3 separate regions of the Homo sapiens genome follow, and all the other regions are linked to region 3. The links come from fine-mapping of genetic effects on plasma protein levels. Region 3 holds a variant in brackets. A gene starts in each other region. All regions are shown on their forward strands. Region 1 holds the start of HAO1 (hydroxyacid oxidase 1). Region 2 holds the start of NT5E (5'-nucleotidase ecto). Region 3 overlaps ZNF827 (zinc finger protein 827).

What was found. PIP is the posterior inclusion probability: the model's chance that the variant is causal. Protein levels are from antibody-based Olink assays in UK Biobank. Linkage for the fine-mapping came from a reference panel and not from the study's own genotypes, which makes the PIPs less certain.
Region 1: HAO1 starts here. The variant in region 3 is fine-mapped to the plasma level of the HAO1 protein (UK Biobank, PIP 0.97).
Region 2: NT5E starts here. The variant in region 3 is fine-mapped to the plasma level of the NT5E protein (UK Biobank, PIP above 0.99).

The regions. Positions count from the first base shown.
Region 1 is chr20:7,936,927-7,945,205 of GRCh38, forward strand. It overlaps HAO1 (hydroxyacid oxidase 1), which reads right to left and starts at 3,532. Exons shown (of 8, transcript NM_017545.3): 1 at 3,360-3,532. The coding sequence starts at 3,496.
Region 2 is chr6:85,445,249-85,453,527 of GRCh38, forward strand. NT5E (5'-nucleotidase ecto) reads left to right here and starts at 4,835. Exons shown (of 9, transcript NM_002526.4): 1 at 4,835-5,230. The coding sequence starts at 4,892. RefSeq lists a silencer at 4,628-4,897.
Region 3 is chr4:145,896,614-145,904,613 of GRCh38, forward strand. It overlaps ZNF827 (zinc finger protein 827), which reads right to left. Exons shown (of 15, transcript NM_001306215.2): 2 at 5,553-6,602. Among named protein-coding and RNA genes, the nearest start is that of ZNF827, 38 kb to the right of the region's middle. The variant C/A (reference allele first, on the strand shown) is at 3,645.

The DNA.
Region 1 (8,279 bases), not on the chromosome of region 3:
ATTTCCCACAATCATACATAAAATAGCACCTCACTATATTCTCGGACTGTGCTTTCCTGGGCCTCCACTTTGGAAAAAGAATTGGTTCAACTGGCAAACAGTTGAACCAATTGAATAATAAACCGTTTTCAAAGGATAGAAAATGAGATGCCAGAGTAAAGGAAGCGGGGTAACGGGGAGAATCTGTTCACAGGAATTTTGGCCCACCCTCACATCTAACAGGGGCCTCAAATTTAACTTATAAAAAAATCAAATGATATATACACTCCTCACAAAGTAGCTGCCCTGTTGAAGGAAGACACCCATGCCTCACCCAGCTTTATAACTGCATGCTGTTTCTGAATCACACTAACTGGACATAGTGGATTCATGTTTTGTAAGTTGTGTAATCCTATAATACTGCATTCCAATTTTCTCCACATTAATTTTTTACTCTAAACAGTTAAAATATATAAAGCAAAAACACCTTATTCACCTATTGTGGATACTAGATAAATTATTTTGTGACATTTATGCCTATGAGAACACAATGTCACTGGTAACTTCATATCACTTCTCAAATATTAAAGTGAAAGAATGACATCACTTTTACCCATCTGTTATTTAAAAGAAAATGATGCCATCTTCAGTCTCAATAGGTAACGCAGCAGAAAAGAGTTTCCTTTTCTGAAATCATGAGGGCTTCTAAGTGTCGAAATTGTTTAATCATCTTCCATCATTGATAATTTCAGAAAAAAAAGCTACAACAACGTGAAGACCATAGTTGAGAAGGCTACTTTGAATAAATGTGTAAGAGAAACAAATTACTGTTCTTCGTTGAATTAATCCCAATCAATTCCAGCCATGCAAAATGTAGCAAGTTGACATTTACCCTGTTTTGTTATAACCACCGTAAGAAATTTTGTTCTGGGTGGTTCCATTTACTTGTCCTTTTAAACATTTTTTTCTACTGCCACAGTAATATTAGTCTGAAGTCTTACCCAAAAATATCTCCAAGCAACTGCTGGGTCACATGAGTGGTCCATGTCCCCAGAACTCCAAAATGTGATTATCAGAGCTGAGTACAGAGAAATAAAAGCTGTCACGGTGAATGACCTTTTGTTGTACTTGCGAGATGGGGAGGTGTATAAATTTCATAAATGTGTTTGAAATACTCTGGCTTTGTATCACAATGGGTTATCTGAGGTTTGATTGTTTTGCACTTTTCATTAGAATCAGAATGTGAAATTTCAGGTTGATTTCCTTCATGCCATCAACCCAAAGTCTCCACAACCCTGGCAGAATTTCTATTCTTAGTTTCACGTGACCAGCTACATGATGCAGTGTGAGGAATCAAGGTTCACCTAGCGAGTCATACAGCAAAAGAGGACACATTGCAAAATGTATTGCAATAAAAACTCAACTAGTTGATAATAAAATAGCATCAGCTGTCCTCCAAAGAAAGTTGATTGATTTTTTTTTTTAATTTAAAGCTGAACAAAAGAGAATGATCAAGGTTCATGGAAAAGGTGACACTGCAAATTCATTTTCATTATCTGTGTCCTATCCCTAAGTTACTCGGTACACACATAGGATGGGAATACTCACTTGAATACCATGTAATTCACATAAGGCATGAGGCACTTTTCCAGTTCATAACTTAGAAGTCACCAAGCCTTCTATGTCTCCCAAAGTTTCTACATTTTAAAGGGTTGCATAGGTGATCCATCTGCTTTGGGGCGCCCCTTTGCATCCTCTCTGAGACCTCCACTTGGCCAACTATTTTGGGCCCATTTTGCATCAATTCAACCCAACAGCATTATGGAGGCTGATATGCATCCAGGGGAATGTAAGTTCCTAGGGACAGGAACTTTGTCTGGCTCACTGCTTTGTCCTCAGCATGTAGTACACAGTGTAGCTCATGGAGACTCCTAATTAGCTCTAGTTAATTAGCTAGCATGCGACAAAGGGAATTAAGAAGTAAGGAAAGCTGTATACAAATGAAATAAATAATCACTTGAGCATTGGAGGTCTAGCAATGCTGAGACACTAACTCTATAAATCTGTCAAGGGTCTGAAATTTCCTTGGTTGTAATAACCTATTTGGGTTAAAGTGTTTTCAAGAGACCACTCATAGGCAAATTTTGGTGGACAAAGTTAATATCGGCCCAAGAAGGGGCATCTTCCAAGAGCAGAAACTTTTAAATGAGTCCAAAATAGTAAATAATGATGCAGAATTTTAAGCCCCTCTACTCTCAGTCAACTTCCCTTCCCATGACTTCCCTGGCATTTGTTGAGCTCATTTGGGTTCCAGGCAAAACCTGAGACAAAGTCAAGGCTTGAAAGGGTTGGGGAGAGGCCGTATCCTTCACCCCATTGCCATTTTCAGTCTTCTACATGGATTTGTGGGTGAATCAGTGCTGCCTACCAGAGACCACCTTGGCCAGGATAATTTTATTTCTCCTAATTTAAATATGGAAAACTGATTTTGAGTGATTTTGTTGTAGACTAAAGAAGAAATCAGGGAGGAAGGCTAATTCTCTCCCCCTGCATATTTTCTGCCTTTTTGTCTTTATCACCATCAATGAGTACCCACAATACCGATTGCCTTTACTAACAGCCATAATGTTAGATGGATGAGACTGAGTGTAGTGTAGTGAAGGCACTCCTCTCTTGCTCCAGCAAATAAACCATTTTTGTAACTGCTATAAAAAAAAACCCTTTGAAATGATTTTATTTCTTGTTTTTATTACAAACAGAAAACATAAACCATGTCACCCACCATCTTGTGCTTTGAAATATGAAAGTCAAAGGAAAACTAATTTGGGAAGAGAGATGAAGTGCTTTGAAGGAGAGATGAAACAGCAAAGTTGAAAGATTAATGCTGCATAGACAAATTGAAATCTAAAGTGAAAGTTTAGACAACAGTAATCAAAATGAATGATAACACGAAAAGCCAGCAGGAAGAAAACATTTGAGCCAACAATCCAGTCTGGTTCATCCGGATAAGATGGTTATCTGGCATTTAATGCTGTTTCCTACACCATGAACATAAGCATTTACTGTCATACTAAGAAAAAGAAAAGTCATCCGAATTTATCGCTATTTTTACATGTAGTTAAATTAATTGTTGTCATATTTCCAAGTGAAGTAACATAGGTTTGGCTTTTGCAGTCAGTTCCTCAAGATTCACAGGCTTGGAATATTTTTTAACAATTTAAAGGCCCAAGATTTCTTACAGCCCCAAGAACTTTTCCCTCTCTACTAAGCACAAATCTGAACAAATAATTACACACCACCAACGTAAAACTAGGAGATCTTATTTTGGTACGGTCTTTGTGTAATTTTAAAACATGATTTTAAAAAATAAATTTTCTTACCTGGAAAATGCTGCAATATTATCAGCCAAAGTTTCTTCATCATTTGCCCCAGACCTGTAATAGTCATATATAGACTTTGGAAGTACTGATTTAGCATGTTGTTCATAATCATTGATACAAATTAGCCGGGGGAGCATTTTCACAGGTTATTGCTATCCCAGATGGAGTTCGTTGTTTTTTTTTTTTTAATGTATTGCTTTCTACATCCTCACTGTTCTGTTATTTGTCAATTATTAATAGACTTTTGCCAAAGTTCAGATTTAGTTCTCTGTTGCTTACATCAAGTGAGCAAACATTATATGCTTAGCCTTTGAAATTTCATTTGTAGGCTATCTGCCAAAGAACACCGAAGTCACTATCTGCCAAAGAACACCAAAGTTGAGGTTGGGAAGGCAGCAGAAGGTGATTAGGTGTCTATCACATTAAAAAGGGGAAAGGAATAAGTAAAAAATTAAAGACTTAGAGGAATACCTGTATGAAACCACTCTTGGTTCAGTTTTGCCTAAGGCTGCTTATTGCACATGGTCTGTGCCTGTGCTCTTTGCTTGATACCCAGAATAGGCTGCCCACTCATTTTCTTTCCACATTTGGATCATGCACAAATCATGTAAACAAGAGCTTATGAACTGAACGGGGCATCCATGAAATATGGGGCATCCGTGAAATTCAGGGCTTCTGCACAATATAAAATTTAGCTGATTACAAACATAGACATTTGGCTTTAACATGGAACATTAAGGCCAAATTGACAGCTAATTGTTTTATTCATTCTGTATATTTGAGGTTTACAACATGATATTATGAGATACATATACACAGAAAAATGGTTACAGTAGGGAGGCCAATATAATATATGTATCATCTCACCCGTAATTACTTTTTTGTGTGTATGACAAGAACAGCTAAAATCAACTTATTTAACAAAAATTCCTAATATGATACAATTTTATTAACTTTAGTCCTCATTTTGCACGTTTGCTCTCTAGACCAGGGGTCCCAAACTCCCCAGCATGGACTGGTACTGGTCCGTGGCCTGTTAGGAACCAAGCTGCACAGCAGGAGGTGAGCAGCCGGTGAGCAAGCTTTACAGACTGAGCTCCGCCTCCTATTGTGAACTGCACATGCGAGGGATCTAGGTTGCGCCACTCCTTATGAGAATCTAATGCCTGATGATCTGAGGTGGAACAGTTTCATTCCAAAACCATCCACCTACCCCCACTGCCCATGGAAAAATTGTATTCCACAAAACTTGTCCCTGGTGCCGAAAAGGTTAGGGACCCTGTTGTAGATTTATGTATCCTACGTGTCTACTATTTTGTATCCTTTGACCTATATCACCCCTTTTCCTCTTCCCTGCTTCCCACTAGTGGTATTCACTGTTTCATTCTCTAGCTCTGTGCATTTGAAGTCTTTTTTAAAACAAAATCCCACCTATAAGTGAAATAATGCAATAATTTCCCTTTTGTGCCTGGCTTATTTCACTTAGCATAATGTTCTCTGGGTTCTACTGCAAATGACAGGATTCCCTTCTCTTATAAGGCTGAATAATATTTCATTGTGTGTATATCTATACATTTCCCTTATCCATTTGTCTCTTAATGGGCATTTAGGTTTACCATTAATTCTTTTTTTTTTTCTTTTTGAGATGGAGTCTTTCTCTGTCTCCCAGGCTGGAGTGCAGTGGTGTGATCTCGGCTCATTGCAGCCTCTACCTCCCAGGTTCAAGAGATTATTCTGCCTCAGCCTCCCAAGTAACTGGGACTACAGGCATGTCCACCACGCCTGGCTAATTTTTGTATTTTTATTTAGTAAAGATGGGGTTTCACTATATTGGCCAGGCTGGTCTCAAACTCCTGACCTCAAGTGATCCAACCACCTCGGCCTCCCAGAGTGCTGGGATTGCAGGTGTGAGCCACTGCACATGGCCTACCACTAATTCTTAGAGTCTTATCTTGCCCTGGAGAGGGTATAGGGAAGTGCTATTCCAAAAGACCTGTGGTCTCAGTCTATAATTTCACTCAATCATGGAACACCTGGGGAAGATTCACATTAGTAGGATATGCTTGAGAAAGCAATGATTTTAACTACAGTTAGACCTGAGTTTCAATCTAGGAGCCGCCACTTAAAGCTGCTTGCCAGTTGTTCACTATCTACATTCCAACCACCTACACCTGTAGGAGAACTTGCTCTTGAACTTGGAGCCTGCTTTTTTCATAAACATAGCATGCCAAATAGTATAGTTCCATACCCTGTGGAACAGCCCTCAATCACAAGCCCAAGAAAGTTCATTCTTCTGGTGGGATTACTCCTAGGATTATGTTCTACATTGCAGGTTTCAGTTATCCACAGTGTGAGCTGGTTGATAATCTATGCTGTGTTGGCTATGTTCCTTTTTTGTTTGTTTTTTGTTTTGAGATGGAGTCTCACGCCGTCACCAGACTGGAGTGAAGTGGCGCAATCTCGGCTCACTGCAACCTCCGCCTCCCAGGTTCAAGCAATTCTCCTGCCTCAGCCTCCCGAGTAGCTGGGATTACAGGCTCATGCCACCACACCCAGCTGATTTTTGTGTTTTTAGTAGAGATGGGGTTTCACCATGTTGGCCAGGATGGTCTTGATCTCTTGACCTCGTGATCCGCCCAACTCAGCCTCCCAAAGTGCTGGGATTACAGGCATGAGCCACCGTGCCCGGCCTGGCTGCCTTCCCTTCTAATCAGACTTCCCTACTCCTCATTGGTGCTCCCTTCACCTCCCAAATAAACTCCTTGCATTTGAATGCTTGCCTCTCAGTCTCCTTTTGGTGAAACTCAAACCAAGACAAAGAGAAATATTCATCCCTACCCTGAGGAGTGACTGTGAGGACAAAGGATATATCATCGCTTAAACACCTGGCATATAGTAGGCACAGTTGACCTTTGAACAAAAAAAAGGGTCCACTTATATGTAGATTTTCTTTAGATTCTTCCACCCCTGAGACAGCAAAACCAACTTCTCCTCTTCCTCCTGCTCCTTATTCTACACAATGTGAAGATGACAAGGATGAAGAGTTTTGATGTACCACTTACACTTTATGAATAGTAAATATATTTTCCCTTCCTTATGATTTTCTTAATAACATTTTCTTTTTTCTAGCTTGCTTTATTGTAAGAATACAGTATATAACACATGTAACATATAAAATATGTGTAAGTTGATTTTGTTATTGGTAAGGCTTCCAGTCAACAGTAGGCTACTAGTTGTTAAGTTTTGGGGGAGTCGAAAGTTTTACACGGTGGGTCGGTACCTCTAACCCCCATATTGTTCAATGATAAACTGTATTTCATTAATATTACCCACCCTCATCTTCTCAATATACTTTACCAACACATTTTTCCAAAAGACTTTTGTTTAATGTCAATTATATAAGGACAATTCCCTAATGTACGAGAGATTGGACAAAGGGATTCTTGAGCTTCTGGAAGGCCATTGCCATTTTTCTTCAAGTAAGTTAATCCCTTTGAGTATTTCTTTGCTAGATTTGCAATTAGTCCAGTTTATTTTCTACACCCCCAAGAGAAGTGTCTTTCATAACTAATGTATATTTATATTATCAGATCTTTTTGAAAATTGCCTTATCCCATGCTTCATGAGGCTTTATATGGTAGAAAGAATAGGGTGTAAAATCATATCTTACAGTGGGTAAATACCCTTTGAGTTTATTTTGGAGAAGGAAAATCGTCTAAGATGAAGAAGAATACTAAGGGGTTCAGTATGTAATCTGTGACTTAGTTTTGACCTGTGGCCACAGAGTGAACACAAAGCACGGTCACCTGTTATATGAAATTCCCATGCTGTGGGTCACCAAAAGGAGCAGGAGAGAGGATATGGATCAAATCTATTTTTACTACTGACAAAGCAACTAGAAACCAAAGATGCAGGCTCCATAGCAGCCTATTAGGCAAACTGGGAATGAAACCAGAACCAAAAATATAAGCCATTAGGTCTTTCCCAGCTGTAATGATATAGTATATAAAAAATAAAGGGTTTTAATTTAATCGAAGGGTCATATGCTGTTAAAATTGACATAGAATTTTATAGTACATAGGTTTATTCTCAAAGTTCACAAATGCTTACTTTTTGCATCAATGTAGTGACAGATGAAATGACATATTAAAATCGCTATTAGGATGTGAAAAATCTGCCAATAAGATAAGCAAGTTCTAAATAATTCAGTTTCATAGTTAACAAAATTATTATGAAAATGTGGTCAAAGGGATCTTAATTATGGCTTATAACTCATTCAAAATGTAAAGATTAAAGCATGACCTTTTATCTGCATATTTATGTGCAAATTTAGCATTTATTAAAATAATTAGCATCCTGCAACTAATGTGATTAGAATGAAGAGGCAATCTAATATTGTTAATCAGGTCAAGTCCCGGTGAAACTAAAGAAGACACATAAGGGCCATTGGTTCTTAAAGTGTGACTTTGAACCAGCAGCATCAGCATCACCTAGGAAGTCATTAGAAATGCAAGTTCCAGGCGTCATCCTAGTCCTACTGAATCAGAAACTCTACAGCTATTTGTGCTGTAACAAGCCTTCCAGGTGATTTGATGCACAACATTGTTTGAGGACCATGGTTTAGGCGAGATGGAATGTAAAGGGGGACTTTTTTCTTAAGAGGCTTATTCTTTTTTATAATTTCAACTTTTATATTAGATACCAAGGCACATATGCAGCTTTGTTACCTGGGGATATGGAATGACGCTGAGGTTTGGGGTACAAATCCTGTCACCTAGGTAGTGATCACAGTACTCAATAGGTAGTTTTTCAATCCATGCTCCCTTCCCTCCCTCCCCACTGTAGTAGCCTGCAGTGTCTGTTGTTCTCATATTTATGTCCATGTGTGCTCAATGTTTAGCTTCCACTTCTAAGTAAGAA
Region 2 (8,279 bases), not on the chromosome of region 3:
GGAAAGCAATAATGGTATTTTAAAAGTCATCTACCCAGGGACAGAGAGGATCTGCCCCAGGAAACTCCCAGGTCCTGCTGCCTATGGGAAGGAAGCATCCCACATGGAGGAGAGAGACTCAGACTCCATGTTGCTTCTGGGAATCTGGTGGGAGGGAGGAAGTCCACTGCGTGAAGGGACCAAGTTCTAATGGGGAAGGGGAGAAAGATTCTGCTTGTACTTCTGCTGTGAGCAGCTGAGTAGTAGATTGTGACAGAGAAGCCGCACATTGAACCTCTGTCGTCCCAGAGTGCTGGAGAAAGAGGCATGTCTGAGCTTAGATGTCAGAGTCAGTGACTGTGCAAGAGGCCAGTTTCCTCATCCCCTGTGCATTCTATGTGCAGCCTCTGAAAACATACATTCTGTGTCCTGGATTGACTCGAATCTAAACCACTCTTATTATTTGTGGCTTATTAAAGAGGCCAATATAGACTGATGGTCCTCCTATGGCCACAAAGAGATCACGGCAAAGTTGCAAGAAAGGATTCTGAGCTTTTGTAGCCTTCTCAGAAGTCCCCAGACCAAGAACTACTCCTTGGGCATAACAGGTGGCAGACAGCAAGAGGTAAACCTTTTGAGTGGACAGAGAGCCTTTATGTGAAATAGAGTTACAAATATAAAAAGACAAAAAAAAATCCTGCCCACTTGTGGAACTTTGAGCAATTAATTTAACATGTTGAAGCTCCATTTTATTACCCATAAAAGGAGAATGATATTGCAGCATTATCACAATAGTCAAGCTTTGGAATCCACCTAACTGTCCATCAATGGATGAATGGATAAAGCAAAAATGTGGAGAGTAGAATGGTGGTTACCAGGGGCTGCCTGAAGGGTTACTGGAGAGGCTGATCAAAGAATATAAAATTTCAGCTAGATAGGAAGAATAGATTCAAGAGATCTACTGTATAATTTGGTGACTATAGTTAATAACAATGTATTGCATACTTGAAAATCACTATGTGAGTAGATTTTAAGCGTTCTCACCACAGAAAAAGTGGGGGTGGGGAGCAGATAATAATATTTACCCTTCATGCTTTTGTGAAGACTTAACAATGTAACCTGAGTATTGGAATTCAATTGTGCTCAAAACCTGACTGCCACTTACTTGGACATGAATGATCTTAAGCAAATTATTCAGCCAGGTTAAATATCACATTAAGTTTTCTTACCAATAAGATGAAATATTAATAGTCATTTAACAGCATAATCCAAATGTGCCAGGATGCCTATGACAAGGTCCCTCTGTTTTCTTTCTTTTTTTTCTTTTTTGAGACAGAGTTTTGCTCTTGTTGCCCAGGCTGGAGTGCAACGGCGTGATCTCAGCTCACTGCAACCTCTGCCTCCAAGGGTTCAAGAGATTCTCCTGCCTCAGCCTCCCAAGTAGCTAGGACTCCAGGCGCCCGCCACCACACCTGGCTAATTTTGTGTATTTTTAGTAGACATGGGGTTTCACCATATTGGCCAGGCTGGTTTCAAACTCCTGACTTCAGGTCATCCACCCGCCTCGGCCTCCCGAAGTGCTGGGATTACAGGTGTGAGCCACCGCGCCTGGCCGGTCCCTGTTTTCACCCCGCATTCACCTAAAAGCAGGTCTCAGATTTTTAATTCAGCCCACCTAAATAAATCTATCTCAGCAAATTTAAAGAAAAATTGATATTTTATTAAAGACTTTGTGATAAGATATAAAATAGGTTCTCATCACAAAAGAAACTTAAATATATATTATCCATTAGATAGCTCCAGTGGTGTGCTGGTAAATGTTCAACAACTGACTCTTAAAGAAAAACGCATGCATTTATATACATACATATTTATTATAAATTTTTCTGATATAAAAGATTGTTACACACAATTTACTATTTGTAAATTTTACTATTGGTTCCTACAGACTGCTTTCATTGATTTTTGCAGAACTTTTGCAATCCATAGCCAACCTATGGTTCCGGCTGAACTGATTTGACAAATGGAGTTATATACCCATTTATTTTCTAATAAATCAATAACGTATTGTTATTGGATGTAATATGTAATCTATTATTAAAGTATTTGTCACCCTATTATATAATGAGTGTAGTACAGGCTATAGTCATTAAATTAAAACCTAGTTTTAGCACTAGATATATTGTTCATCAATGATGTGAGTGAGATTTTTCCTGAGTCAGAAAATAGTTTTCTAATATGTACTGAAATAATATTTTCTCAATTTGGGGGGCTATTCCCAATGTAATGGATATTAGCACCACACACTTTTAAGTTTATTCTGCATTATTTTGACATTTTCTTCATTACTTTCTTAAGTCTAATCAACTGATGAAACAATAAATAAAGCCCTGATTTGTATGTAAATTTTTGCCTGTATATTTTTCTTTCCTCATGGACTTGGGAAATTTTCTATGATCCTCATGGCTTTGCAGCTACTTACTGTATGCACCCTCACCTTGTTTGCAGCATTATCAGCTCCAGGACAGCCGAAATCCTTCTTGGTTCTTTCATACTATCGCCCACTGTGTCTAAAGTAGATTTTAAGTTAGTGTTACTTGAATTGCAAGTACTACTACCACTGAAGCAGCAACTCTGTTTCCATTGCTTGGGGAGAAGACCAAAAACACACATTAAACACCTGGAGAAAAAAAGTAAAACCACATTAAAGTGAGATTGTAGGAACTGACCAGAAATTTAGAAAAGAGAAAAACTCACTGCTGTGTGAAGAAGTCAAAGGAACTTCATGTTGACTTGAACAAGAAATTAAAGGAACCCCGGGCCTTGGCCTAAGGACAGACTGGAAATGGTGGTTTGGAGAGAAGAAATGAGGACAAAGGGAATGTGTGAGGAACAGTGGAAGGTAAAGTTGGCTGGATAAAATGAGACTTCAAAATGCCAGTTTGCGAAGCTTGAACTTGGTGCAATAAACAATCAAAGGCCATTTTAGATGTATATGAAAACAAATGGCATGGAAATGATATTGAAGCAGAAATCTGGTAGCATCCCCAGAACAGGAATTTCAGAAACTATTGCAGTGGCTTAGGTTTAAAAGACAAGAAACAACAAATGATCAGTTCCCCAGTGATCAGTGATAGGTCATGTTGATACCGTGTACCCACAGATACCAGGCAATGAGAAAGGCACATAATCTCTGTAGCATTCTTCCTAAACATCCACAGCTTCAGTCCAATCATGAGAAAACATCAGACAAACCCAAACTGAGGGATAGTATACAGAAACCAGTACTGTTCAAAAGTGTCAAGGTTTTTGAAGACAACTGACTGAGAAACTGTCACAGATTAGAGGAGGCTAAGAACACAGGAAAACTAACTGCAATATGGTATCCTGAATTGGGTCCTGGAATAGAAAACGGACATTAGTGGAACAGTTGGTGAAATTAAAATAAAATCAGTAACACAGTTAATAGTTTCGTATCACTGTTAAGTTTTTAGTTTCATTGGTTATATAAGCTGTTAACATAAGGCAATATGGGTGATGGGTATGTGGGAACTCCCTTTATTACCTTTGCAACTTTTCTGTAAGTCTAAAATCATTCTTTTTTTAAGTTAAAACAGCAAAACTACCAGTTCTTTTACCTGCTTCTAGCAGGTGCTCAAAGAGGGACAGAGCAAAACCTTGCAAAGCATGACATTAGAGGGTGTCCCAGAAGCAAGGGTCTTCTGTAGCCCCAGGCACTGCTGCTCCCAAACTGCATGGCCTTTCTTGGCAAATGATTTACAATCTCCGAACCTCAGGTCAATGTCTTAAAAACGGGCACAGAATGTCTTTTCAACAAATGGTACTAAGAAAACTGGATATCCACATGAAAAAGAGTAAATGTGGACTCATACCACATATGAAAATTAACTCAAAATGGATTAAAGGTCTAAGAGTTTAAATTATAAAACTCTTAGGAGAAAACATAGAGGAAAATCTTCCTAACATTGTATTTGGCTATGACTTCACTGCGACACCGAAAGCACACGCGACAAAATAAAAATAAAATAAAATAAAATAAGACCAGAAAAGCAAAGAAGGGCAGCATCCCTTCCCGTCCTGATAGCTGCCGGATTTTACCCCAATCGTGTTTCTGCTTCCAGGAGCTGTCCGCGCGTCGCCTCTGTTTTATCACTAAGGTTTTAATTGTGAATAAACAAGGAACTGGATTCGAATGATTTCTTAGTTTCTGAGATTTTTTTGTCTAAGCATCGTAGACTTCGTGCGTTCTCAACCCAACAGGAAGCGTCACATCTCAGTGAGCTTCGGCTCTCACAGCCCGAAACTGCAAGGAGCTCCTCTGCCCGGCCTCTCTTTACTCCTCCTCTCTGCCCCTCAGCTCGCTCATCTTTCTTCCCGCCCCCTCTCTTTTCCTTCTTTGGTTCTTTGAAGTGATGAGCTAGCGCAACCACAAACCATACATTCCTTTTGTAGAAAAACCCGTGCCTCGAATGAGGCGAGACTCAGAGAGGACCCAGGCGCGGGGCGGACCCCTCCAATTCCTTCCTCGCGCCCCCGAAAGAGCGGCGCACCAGCAGCCGAACTGCCGGCGCCCAGGCTCCCTGGTCCGGCCGGGATGCGGCCGGTACCCGCTCCCCGCCGGGAACAACCTCTCCACTCTTCCTGCAGGGAGCTGGTGCCAGCCGACAGCCGCGCCAGGGCCGCTCCGGGTACCAGGGTCGGATCGGGTGACGTCGCGAACTTGCGCCTGGCCGCCAAGCCGGCCTCCAGGCTGAAGAAGGACCCGCCCCGGCCTTGACCCGGGCCCCGCCCCTCCAGCCGGGGCACCGAGCCCCGGCCCTAGCTGCTCGCCCCTACTCGCCGGCACTCGCCCGGCTCGCCCGCTTTCGCACCCAGTTCACGCGCCACAGCTATGTGTCCCCGAGCCGCGCGGGCGCCCGCGACGCTACTCCTCGCCCTGGGCGCGGTGCTGTGGCCTGCGGCTGGCGCCTGGGAGCTTACGATTTTGCACACCAACGACGTGCACAGCCGGCTGGAGCAGACCAGCGAGGACTCCAGCAAGTGCGTCAACGCCAGCCGCTGCATGGGTGGCGTGGCTCGGCTCTTCACCAAGGTTCAGCAGATCCGCCGCGCCGAACCCAACGTGCTGCTGCTGGACGCCGGCGACCAGTACCAGGGCACTATCTGGTTCACCGTGTACAAGGGCGCCGAGGTGGCGCACTTCATGAACGCCCTGCGCTACGATGCCATGGTAAGACCCGAGCCCGCGCCCGGGATAGTAGTCCCGGACTGAGAGAGGAGCCGGGCTGGAAAAGCAGCGGATGGCAGAGTGTGGCAAGCCTAGGTCCAGGGCGCGGAGAGATGTGGGGATAAAGTGAGACTCCGGCCAGTGTGCCAGCTGGATGCATAGAAGTCCCTTGGACGATTCGTCTTAAACGGACGTTATTGCGCCCCCACTATGAGATGGGAGTATTTAGAGGAGCAGGACCCAGTCCTGCCTGCGAGGGGCTTAAGGTGGGGTGCGTAGAAGCACTGACAGTTATCCAGAGCTAGGGACTGAATCGGATCCCTCACGCAGCTCTCATTTACTGCTAGATCTTTCAAAGAATGCTTTATCTCAATCTAGATCTTTCGAAAAATGCTTTATCTCAATCTTATTGAAAGGGAAACCGCGTCGAAGAAGCTGAATAAATTAACAGGCACCATCCCCGCAAAAAGGGAGACGTGATAAGAATGGACACCAGATCTCTTTGACCCCGGAGCTTGAGAGTAATTAAGCTCACAGCTTTGGGGTAGATTCTCTGTTCAATTACCTTCTATGTGACCTTGAGCAAGTTATTTACTCTTTCTTGCCTCAGTTCTATCCTGTATAAAAATAAGGATTATAATTGTACATAGTGCACATAGTGTGGTCTCTATATTATTACCAGACACATAGTGTGGTGTCTATATATGTTGTTATTACCAGACACTATAATATAGGGTTAAGAAAAGGAAAGAAAGAAAGAAAGAGAAAGAAAGAAAGAAACTTCAGAGAGAGCCAAAATGTGGAAAGACTTGGGTTTCAAAGGATTTCAATAAAGTAGGTTTGGCGGCAGAGATTTAGGAAGAGTCCAACTTAAGAGATAATGGGCTCTTAAAACATGTGCAAAAGTTTAGTTCAAAGTCCCAAATGTTAGGTTAAAGGTAATGCCTTTTCTATTGCACTAAATTCTAGAAAGGGAGCAGAGGTGGTTGCACAGTAATAAATAAGTACAACCAAGATGTATATATGGTGGTTAAAAAAAAAATAAAACCACCACCCAAATTTAACCCTGTGTAAAAGCCTTGAGTAAAGGGATTCAGCAAGACTGTGGAGAAACTTGGGAGAAGAAAAAAGAGCTTTGGAAGAGGAAGAACTGAGAAATCTCCAGAGAAACGTCCAGAGAAATCTGTGAAGTCCACAAGTGTGGAAGGGAAAGGGAAGTGTGATTAGGCTGGGATACAGAAGGCTAACAGTACACTTTATATGAGAAGAGCTTAGAGGTCAGGAGAGCACAATGCTGAGGGGTTTGTTTGGTTTTATTTTCCCCTCTGGAAACTTGGAGAAAGGAGGACAGGAAAAGATGATAAGAGGGCACCATTGTTTGGTTTTAAAGGTCCCTCCCCAACCCCCCACAACAAGAAAGCTCATTTTAATGAGATGAGAGAAGGGGAGAAAGCTCCCTCCGTTCTGATGCTTTTGAGCTTATCAGGGACACCCTGCAGCAGAAATTCCAGCTGATCCTTCAGCCTTCAGAGTTGATGAGGTGGGGCTCACACACATCTGGATTTGAAGAAGAATCGTGGGTTTCAAGAACTCTGTGGTCTCTTAAGCATTGGTATTCCACAGCTACACTTCCCTGATACTTTGCACTCAGTAATGACAAAATAAATATTTGTAGAATTGAGTTGTTGCTACCCTGTGTCTCCACTTCCTCCCAGAAGGGTAGAATAAACTTACATGTGTTTGTTTTATTTTGCATATAAACCACGACTTTGTAAACTTTACTTTTTGTGACACTCTTTTCTCCACAATTGTGTGAACCCTTTTTAGTGGAAAAATAAGAATGAAGAATTCCTAGTTTTCCCTAATAATATTTCCCTCTTGTAAGTCTAGTTGAGCTCCTGGTGTTAATCATGGTATCAAATGTTTATGACAGGACATCTAGGTGAGGCCTGAGTAAACTGCTGTAAGTTACAGCCTATCTCTTCTGTGTTTGTTCAGAATCCTTTTTGTTGGATGAAATTACTTTCTTTCAAATTTTGCTCAAGAAAATTGAATTGGGTTCTGAGGAAAAATAGGCTACTTACGTAATGTTGGCAGGGGGTAAAGATTGGGAGCGGATCACATGGCAAGGTTAGATGGCTGTGTCCTCAGGACTTACTCTGTGCAGTTTGGGGGTGTGTCAAACATGATTTGACGTGCATAAAATCCCAGTTCTGTAGTGCTAAAGCATGTGCTAAAGCTCTGCTGTACTCCAGTATTGCACAGATGTTTCACTGTCAATTGTTTATATTATACTAACCCTCAGAGAATTTATTGCTGTTGTGGTATAAACGTTCCTCCACTGTAACCACTCACCGCATATTGATTCCTAGGACACTGGGGATTCAAATCAGGGTGGAAAACAGTTGTGGAGGGGCATCTCCAGTTTCCTGGAGACTGGACCTAGTTCAAAGGAGCCACATAAAAGGACTGAAGCATATGGAGGACAAAGAGGAATTTCCTAGAATCCAGCTAAAACACAGGAGTCCCCTCGAGCAGGAACTTCCAAGGAGGTGTACACTTTCTAGACCTACTGGAGTAATCCTGATTGCTGTAGAGGACCCAGGGCAATCCTGGAGACCCCCTGGAACCACTACTAGGCAGAAAACTGGGAAGAGGATGGCAAAACTCTCCAGTTAGTGTAGCTGTCTCAGTGGAAGGACTGTTGTCCCCTGAGGCACGAGGAAGACAGCATGGAAGCACTGACAGTATGCGCTTGGCCTGGTTACTTTCTCTGAGCTTCATGTTCCTTAGCTGTAAAACAGGAGTGATAACCCCCATCTTGCAGAGGTTTTGTGAGGAATACATGAGATAATCCCTGCTGGTGCTCACTGAAAGTGAGTTTCATGTGCCCTGGGTGGGGAGGAGGGGAATTGTGAGGAAGGGAAGGTTTGGGTTGTGCATCAGATTATCTGATTCTCACAGCCTGGCACAGTCTACCACCTGCCTGCCCTCTACCATCTTACCTAAGTACCATTGCCTAAACTATTTTTGCTATAGTTACTCATTGAGC
Region 3 (8,000 bases):
AGGAAAAGACGCAGGAGGCTGCCAGTAAGTCCCAATGGAACTTGTGTTAGGACAAGAGTGTATGTATGCCTTTCACATAGTGCCCCAATACACATTCTAAATGAATGGATGGATAAACAGATAAATGTTCGTGTACTTAGACCTCAGCTATTTCCAAAAATGAACCTGGAGCAGCTTATATTAAAAATGCATATGGAATGACTACATCATTAATAAAGTACAGAGATATATGTTGAACCATTTATAATGAACAAGATCTGCCCAAAGCAGAGATGATCTTATGGGAGGTTTGATAGTGAATTTTAAGAAGCAACATATTAAACTCAAAAATTGGAAAAAAAAGAGTTTGTTTTGAGTTAATAAACAGAGTTTTAAAACACTGAGCTACAGTAGTAAATATAAGCAAGAAATTCTAAAACAGGAAAAGACCTTGGAGATCATCCAGCTCTGTTTACAGATGAGGATACTAAACTGAGGTAGTATGCTGAGAAGTCTCTCTACCAGTTAGTGGCAGAACTGAGATTACAGCTCATCTCTTCACTTCTGGTTTGCTGCTCTACCTATTGTCTATGCATAAATCCACAAAACAACAACAACAAAACTTCATTGGGCTAAAAAAAAATTTTTTTAAATCACGGAGGGTTGTAGTTGCTTAACTGCTTTAACACAAAGGTATTTTTAAAACAAATGTAACTGTTTTGTAGGCTTCGAAATCAAACTTCCTGTTGTTCAATCCTATGTGGTGATTTGCAGCAAGTCAATATAACTTGCAACTGGGTGGTTTCTGCGTATATACCTTACCATAAACTTAGGAGTTCAAGATGCCTGGTGACCCTGGATCTGCATAATCTGTGCATTATTACGGTCTCCATTCTGGACCTACTAACATTACCGGTACACATCTGTGTAGGATGACGACCTATCTTCCTTCCTAACAATACACATGGACTTTAAATCTTTTAACAGAATTTCTTTGTTATGTGTCTCAAATGCTATTTCATGGCAACAAAAAAAGCCTAGGTTAGCAATGGATGTCCCTGGGTTTATCTGTTATTATGGATGCTGACTTTATTAATGCCTATTTTAACTAGTAAATATTCAGAGAAGTCTGATATCTATAGCCATACTAAGTTTAAATCACTGCGAAAATACAATTGAGATTAATGACGGACAGTTCTAAAAATCTAGGTTAAAAAGTGAATTTTCTAAACAAGTTCATATATGGGATCATTCTCAGATTAAGGCTTATTGAGACTTATGGCCGGGTCCTGTGCTTCATGCCTGTAATCCCAGCACTTTGGGGGCCTGAGTAGGGTGGATCACTTGAGGCCAGAAGTTCGAGACCAGCCTTACTAACATGGCGAAACCCCATCTCTACTAAAAATACAAAAATTAGTCGGGTGTGGTGGTGCATGCCTGTAGTCCCAGCTTCTCAGGAGGCTCAGGCACAAGAATTGCTTGAACCCGGGAGGCGGAGGCTGCAGTGAGCCGAGATCGCACCACCGCACTCTAGCCTGGGCTATAGAGCCAGACGCTGTCACAAACAAAAGATTTATTATAATAACCACGGGCCTAATGGGAGTATCAGGAGAGGTGATCTCCCTCTCCGGACTTTGTATGCTTTTGCAATAATTTTAATAACATCACATAAATATTAAAGAAAACAGCAGCCAGAAACCCCCTATGTATTGACCCACAGGAAATATTCTTAGTTCTCAGCTGTATGAGACCAGGTTTGCTTCTAAGAATATTTACATTTTATTCAGTACAATAAGATGTTTTGGAGACCCTCTCTCTGAAACTCTCCCTGTTATTTCTTTTAAACAGGAGTCTGGCATCCTGGGAATCTTGTTGGCCTTCTACAAGAAACTTTGTCTTTAAAATAAAAACCATTTATTTTATTCTTAGCTGCAACAGAACAGTAGCTTCAAAGAGAATTCAGTCAATGTGTGACATTTATCTTTATAGCAAACGGACATAATCTTCCCTCTATCGTGTCCCCTTTCAGAGGAGCCGTGTAGCATGTGCTGGGGGCGCAGGGTCACATGAAAGAAACCTCCCCCTCAAGTGTCACGTCTCTCTTGCAGGGCGGAAAGGCTATCGAGTGGTGGACTCTTAAGGAATTAAATACACCATGACCTGGCAACCACTGAATCCTGTTCAAAAAAGAAGAATAAGGCCAAACCTAAAAGACAATTTTTTTTTCATGGTTTGGACTTCCCTTGACCTAAAGAAGGTCAAAGAAATGGTGGTGTCTAAATTACTCAAGGCGGGATCAGCTTTTCTAGCACATATCTCTTTGTAACTTAAGAATCAACTTTATATGCTTTTTTCTTGCGCATTTTGAGAAATCGCTTTTTAAAAATGAAAGCCCTGCCTGAAATCAGGATGGTGTGTAGTTTATTTTTGTGGCTTTTTGTTGTTGTTCTTGGGGGCGGTTATTATTTGTTTACTTAAGTCATTAGGCAACAGAAACTCTTTTCCCTGCTGTGAGAGGCCAATGCACCTACGTATTTTGAATTAAACTAAGATTTCCTTCTAAGGGAGAGGAAAGAATAATAATGACAAATGTTCCCATACAGGGGTGATGACTCTCACCACATTTCCATAATGCTTCTTAGATAAATCGAAGGTACATCCCAATCCAGCCCCAGGTGGCCCCCAAACCAACAGTATAATGTGTGGAAGGTGGGGGAGGGAGGGGGAGGGAAGAAAAGGGAGTTGGGGAGGGTAGAGGGGACAGATGGAGATGATCCACCTTTCCTTCCACTCCTCAGATGCCAAAATCAGTGATCCCCAGTAACACCAAATCATGTACCCATGATACAAAGACAAATAACAAAATTAGATACTCTGTGAACTCCTTATTAACCCATAATCTAGCTAGGCTGCTGGGAAGTGATGACATTCACTTTAACTGAAAAGAGTGAGGGCATCCCCTCTTCTGTTTCCAAGCCATGCAATAACAAACAGAACTTGAACGTAGGATGGGCCCACGTGGACGTATGGAATATTTTTCGGGTAACAATTTCAAGGACCCTCATTTTCTTGGCAGTGATCTTTCCTCATGCATGAGTTTTACAAAATGAAAGATTTTTTAAATAAAATTACTCTGCTGATGAAGCTGCTTCTTCAAGTCTTAGACTGAACAGAGGCATGTTGAAATGGGAGAGTTGGGGTGGGGAGGCCTTAGGTACAAGTCAATCAGCACAGGGTTCTATAACCCAAAGCTGAGAAGTTCCTTTCCCTCCTCTTTCAGTTTGAACATTCTGAACATCCCTTGATTAAAATATTAAGTGTTTCAGCAATATAATAAATATAGTAAAAAGCAAAGTAAGAAACGATTTCTTATAGATCTCCCATATTCAATTATTCTGAGAACCCCACTGAGTTGCTGGCATAGATTAAGTGTATTTAAACCAAAAAGGAACATAGCTTTTCCCTTGGGTGTATTTCCCACAACAAAACAAACAAAAAGTCTACCATTCACTGGAAGCTCATGACCTCTTTCTCATCTTTACATGTATCTGGTCGTTTGAGTGAAAAAAATTATATTCACAACCATTGCTGGTTATACCGGAGACTTCAATATGACAAAGCTGCTACAGTCTGGGCTTCAGGAAACATGGTTTTATCAGTCACTT[C/A]TTTCCAAGTCTTCAATCAACTAAAGTTTATTATTAACTTTGCATAAGCTTTCCCAACTAACAAATGTCCAGATGAATTGTATACTAGAAACGCCATTCACACATTTATTCAATAACTAGATATGCAGAATATACATATATATAATTATTATTTTCTTTTTTTTATTTTTATTTTTTTGAGACAGAGTCTCATCCAGGCTGGACTGCAGTGACACGATCTCAGCTCACTGCAACCTCTGCCTCCCGGGTTCAAGCAATTCTCCTGCCTCAGCCTCCCAAGTAGCTGGGATTACAGGCGCACACCACCACGCCTGGTTAATTTTTGTATTTTTAGTAGAGACGGAGTTTCACCATATTGGTCAGGATGGTCTTGACCCCCTGACCTCAGGTGACCCACCCGCCTTGGCCCCTCAAAGTGCTAGGATTACAGGTGTGAGCCACTGCGCCCGGCCTAAAATTTTATTTTATATACAGCCATACCTCTCTTTCTACTGCTATCCCTAAATGAAATTTCTATAAGTCAGGAGTGATTTTTTCCATCGTAGAACTACCCCAGCCTCCTTTGCTCTTCTCCTTGTTTCCTAATTTTACCCATTTCTCTCCTTATTTCACCAGATGGCAGGTGAGAAGAGAGGAGAAGTGGAACTTAGAATTGACAACATCCTAGGATTTTACTGACATTTCAGAAACTCTGGAGAGAACAGTTTGGATCACCAAGAGTCATAAAAGTCCCAGATACCCATTTTCCTCGTTGTCTTCTGCTGTTGACTCAAGTTTTGAAGTACTTATAATTAGTGAATATAGCTCACTCAGCCATTTAAATGGAAATTTGTCATAAATGCATCAAATTGACATTAACTGTGATCGTTCCGTCAATTATTTGCCATTCCAAACCCTCTTCATCATTGTTGCTGAAAATAATCAAAAGTTGGCTAGACACACACGATGGCAATGTTTGTACCGATGAGGATGCACATAGCCTACTTCCTGCTCCAGTCTGGCAGGATATCCTTAAGAGACATCTGAAACCCCAACACGCATCCCAGGAACGTGTATTTATCATGTACACAATTTTAAAGCAAACCAGAACAAGAAATGGTGTTTCCACTGTGAGAATTCAAGTGACTAAATTTCTCCCTCAGATGAATAATTGTGAATGCTAAGGTCCTATATGACAGCGATTTCTCCTTTGGAAAGACTGCCTCCACTAGAAAAACCTTAGGATTCAAATTTTCCACATGCACATTCCTTCAAAATTGGATTGGATTTGAATTAAATAAAGCATTCACAGGAAATGTGTTGATTATGTTTGATTGACAATCTTTTTGAGTTCTTATAGGACAAGAAATTGTAGGAGAATAGGATACGTGAAAAGGGCTTAAATTCCACAAAAAGTAATAAAAATGCTAACATAAAAGTATATGGTGTGATAAATTAGGGCAGAGTAGTTCCTGATTGTACAAAAGTCCATTTGTGATGGAGGCAGCAGGAGTGTGGGCTCTCCCTTGTCCACTATTTCAAAAGCAGTGGGTTTTTTTCCCCTTATGTTCAGTGATGCCATGCACTCCATGACAAAGATGCTTTGATCTTCTCCCATTAAATATATCTTGTATGGACCTAGCCTGAACTTAGTAAGAAAAAAAAATCATTTGTATGAAAGGGAGGGAATGCTGTATGTCTCTAAGATTATTCATTACCTTTCAAAAGTGAAGCTATTTGTGAAGTCTTTGTGTAATACGTACATGAAAGACTACTATGCTGCTTACTTAAAGTATTTTTGTTGTGCTCTTGCTTTTTTATTCCTGCCTCAGATCAGATGGGGAACCCAACTGAAAAAAGCAATGAATAAGACATCGCAGTTTATAGTCTAAAGGACTTACACGATGATTGAAAGAAAAGATGCCATACCTGAATTGGAGGGTTTAGAAACTCTTCCCTTAGGAACTGGGAGTAATAATAATTCCAGGGATTGTGGTGGTGGTGGTGGAGGTGGTGGAGGTGGCGGTGGAGGTGGCGGAGTGACTTTTTCTGGTTTCTTCTCTGAAGGCGGGGGCGGTAGAGGGTCCTCAGGCAGCAGCGATGATTTCTCAGCCAGAAGACTGCCCGCAGCCCTTGCGGCCACCTCCTTCAGAAGGGCCGCTGAGGAGGTCATAGAAGCCAGGGAAAGGAAGGAGCTGGCCGGTGGAGGGTGCTCCTGACCAGGAGTCAAACTTCTTTCACTGACCTTCTTGGACAAAGCGGCCAAGGTAGAACTGGCAGACTGGGAGCTAAAAGGGGAGGAAAAGGACTCAAATCGCATGGTCTCCTCAGTCCTGGTGAGAGATTTGTCCTGCAGAACGGCATTGGCTGCAGCTTTCAGTTTTAGGATGGCTGAATCCGGAGACAAGCTGCAGGTGGTGGTTGAGTTTGGCAACCACTTACCTTGATTCCATATAAAACGGTTACTTGGAGTGTATTGGTCATTCTGTTCCTGCTTCTCGGCCAACTTCCTGGCCAGAACACTGAGCTGCTGGGCGTGGTGGGAAGGCGGGGAAAAGGAGAGGTTCGAGCCAACGTTTACGGGGGACTCCACTCTGCCATTAGCCGTGGCTGCAGCATCGAGTTTGAGGGAACCAGCCTCCAGCAGCCGCCTCAAATTGCTGCTCAGGGGCTTGTTGGAGCCTGGGTCATCGTCACACAAAGAAGACACTCCCGGGGAAAGGTGATCTTGACACTGCAGTGAGTCTCGCAGGACCTCACTGTCCAGTGCCACCAGCTCCAACGTGTGGCTGCTGGGAGTCGTGCTTCCCAAGGAGGTGTCCGGGGACGTGGACTGCTCCTGGATCCGGTCCTCCAGAGACAACTTATAGTTCTCCTGGACTTCCCCATAGGATGCTTCTGACGGAGTCTCTGAAGAGTTTCCATACCAGTGTTCTCCTTCACTGAGCTCTCCCTCCGCCTCTTCCTGCCTACTAACATCTGGGGAGAATTAAGAAGATCAGGTTTACTCCCAAAGTGAACAATAAGTAAGTCTCAAGACATTCAAATGGAGGTGATGACATGCTTTCTCTTCCCTTCCACCCAAGAACCAAATGAAAGGTGGCAACAGCCTTAACAGAATGTCAGACAGACTTGGCAGAAGCCTGAAAAAAGTAAAAAATGCTACACAGGCAAAGGTAAAAACATACCCAAGTAGTCCAGATAAGTTGAAAGGGAAAAGAAGGAAAAAGAAAAATGGATCTGGTAAAGAGGTAATTGGATGAAGAAACTGCTATTTTCAGGGAATGGGGGGAAATGGAAAGAAGCCTATATCCTTGTGAAAAACCAGCACAGTATGTTTAGCACTGTGACAGAATGAGAGAGGCAGCCTGGCATAGTGGGACACAGACCGTGAGACACAGACAGTGGGAAGCGCTTCCCTACTTTCTAACTCCGTGACTCTAGGCAAGTCACTGAGCTGGTCTGAGAATCCACTTCCTCCAATATAAGATGCAATTCATTTTTTAAAAAGCTTATCAAAAATGTACATAATACCTGCTTAACTCACTTTATCAGTTGTTATAAAGCTTATATCATAATAAGCATGTGATCATGTTTTGAAAACAGTCAAGTACCGTATAAAATCAGATTTCATTAGCAAACACTACTCACATTTCTGGCTTCTGACTGTGACAGTACCTCCCATGTTATGCATGCTACCTATTTGAGGGTCCTCAACTCCAGTCATCAACATGCTTGCCATATTATCACAGGCAGCGGTTAGGAATGTGTTCCCTCCCTCCACTAAGAGTGTCTTTTCATTATTTTCTATTTATCGATCCACCACTACCACTCCCATGACACTCTCATGCACCAGTTAGGCAGGCTCCTTGCCATTCTAGGGGCATTCATGAGCCCTGCCACTTTTCTACCTTTTCTCACGATATTCCTTCCATCTCAAATGTCTTTCCCCAGAAAAGCTGATTGTCCAATTCTACTTACCCTTCAACACCCGACTCAAAGGTTTCTTCCTTACAATTCTCCCTGGAACTCTCACTCAGAATGAACAAAACTAAGATCCTGCCTTCTTGGAGCTTACATTCCAGTGGGGGAAGACAAGTGTCAAACAAAATTAATAAATGGGTAAATAACATAGCATGCCAGAGGGTGATAAGTCCATGGAAAACCACATAGGGCAAGACAGGGAGGATGGGGAGTAATGGGTGGGAAGAGAGCTGCAATTTTAAACAGGTGGTCAAGGTGGAGCTTCACAGAAGTGGTGGCATTTCAGCAAAGCCTTGGAGGAAGTGAGAAACTGACCATGCAGAGGGAGAGTCACTGTGAAGGCCCTGCTGTGGGAACATGCCTGGCACGCCCATGGAACAGCACTGAAGCCAG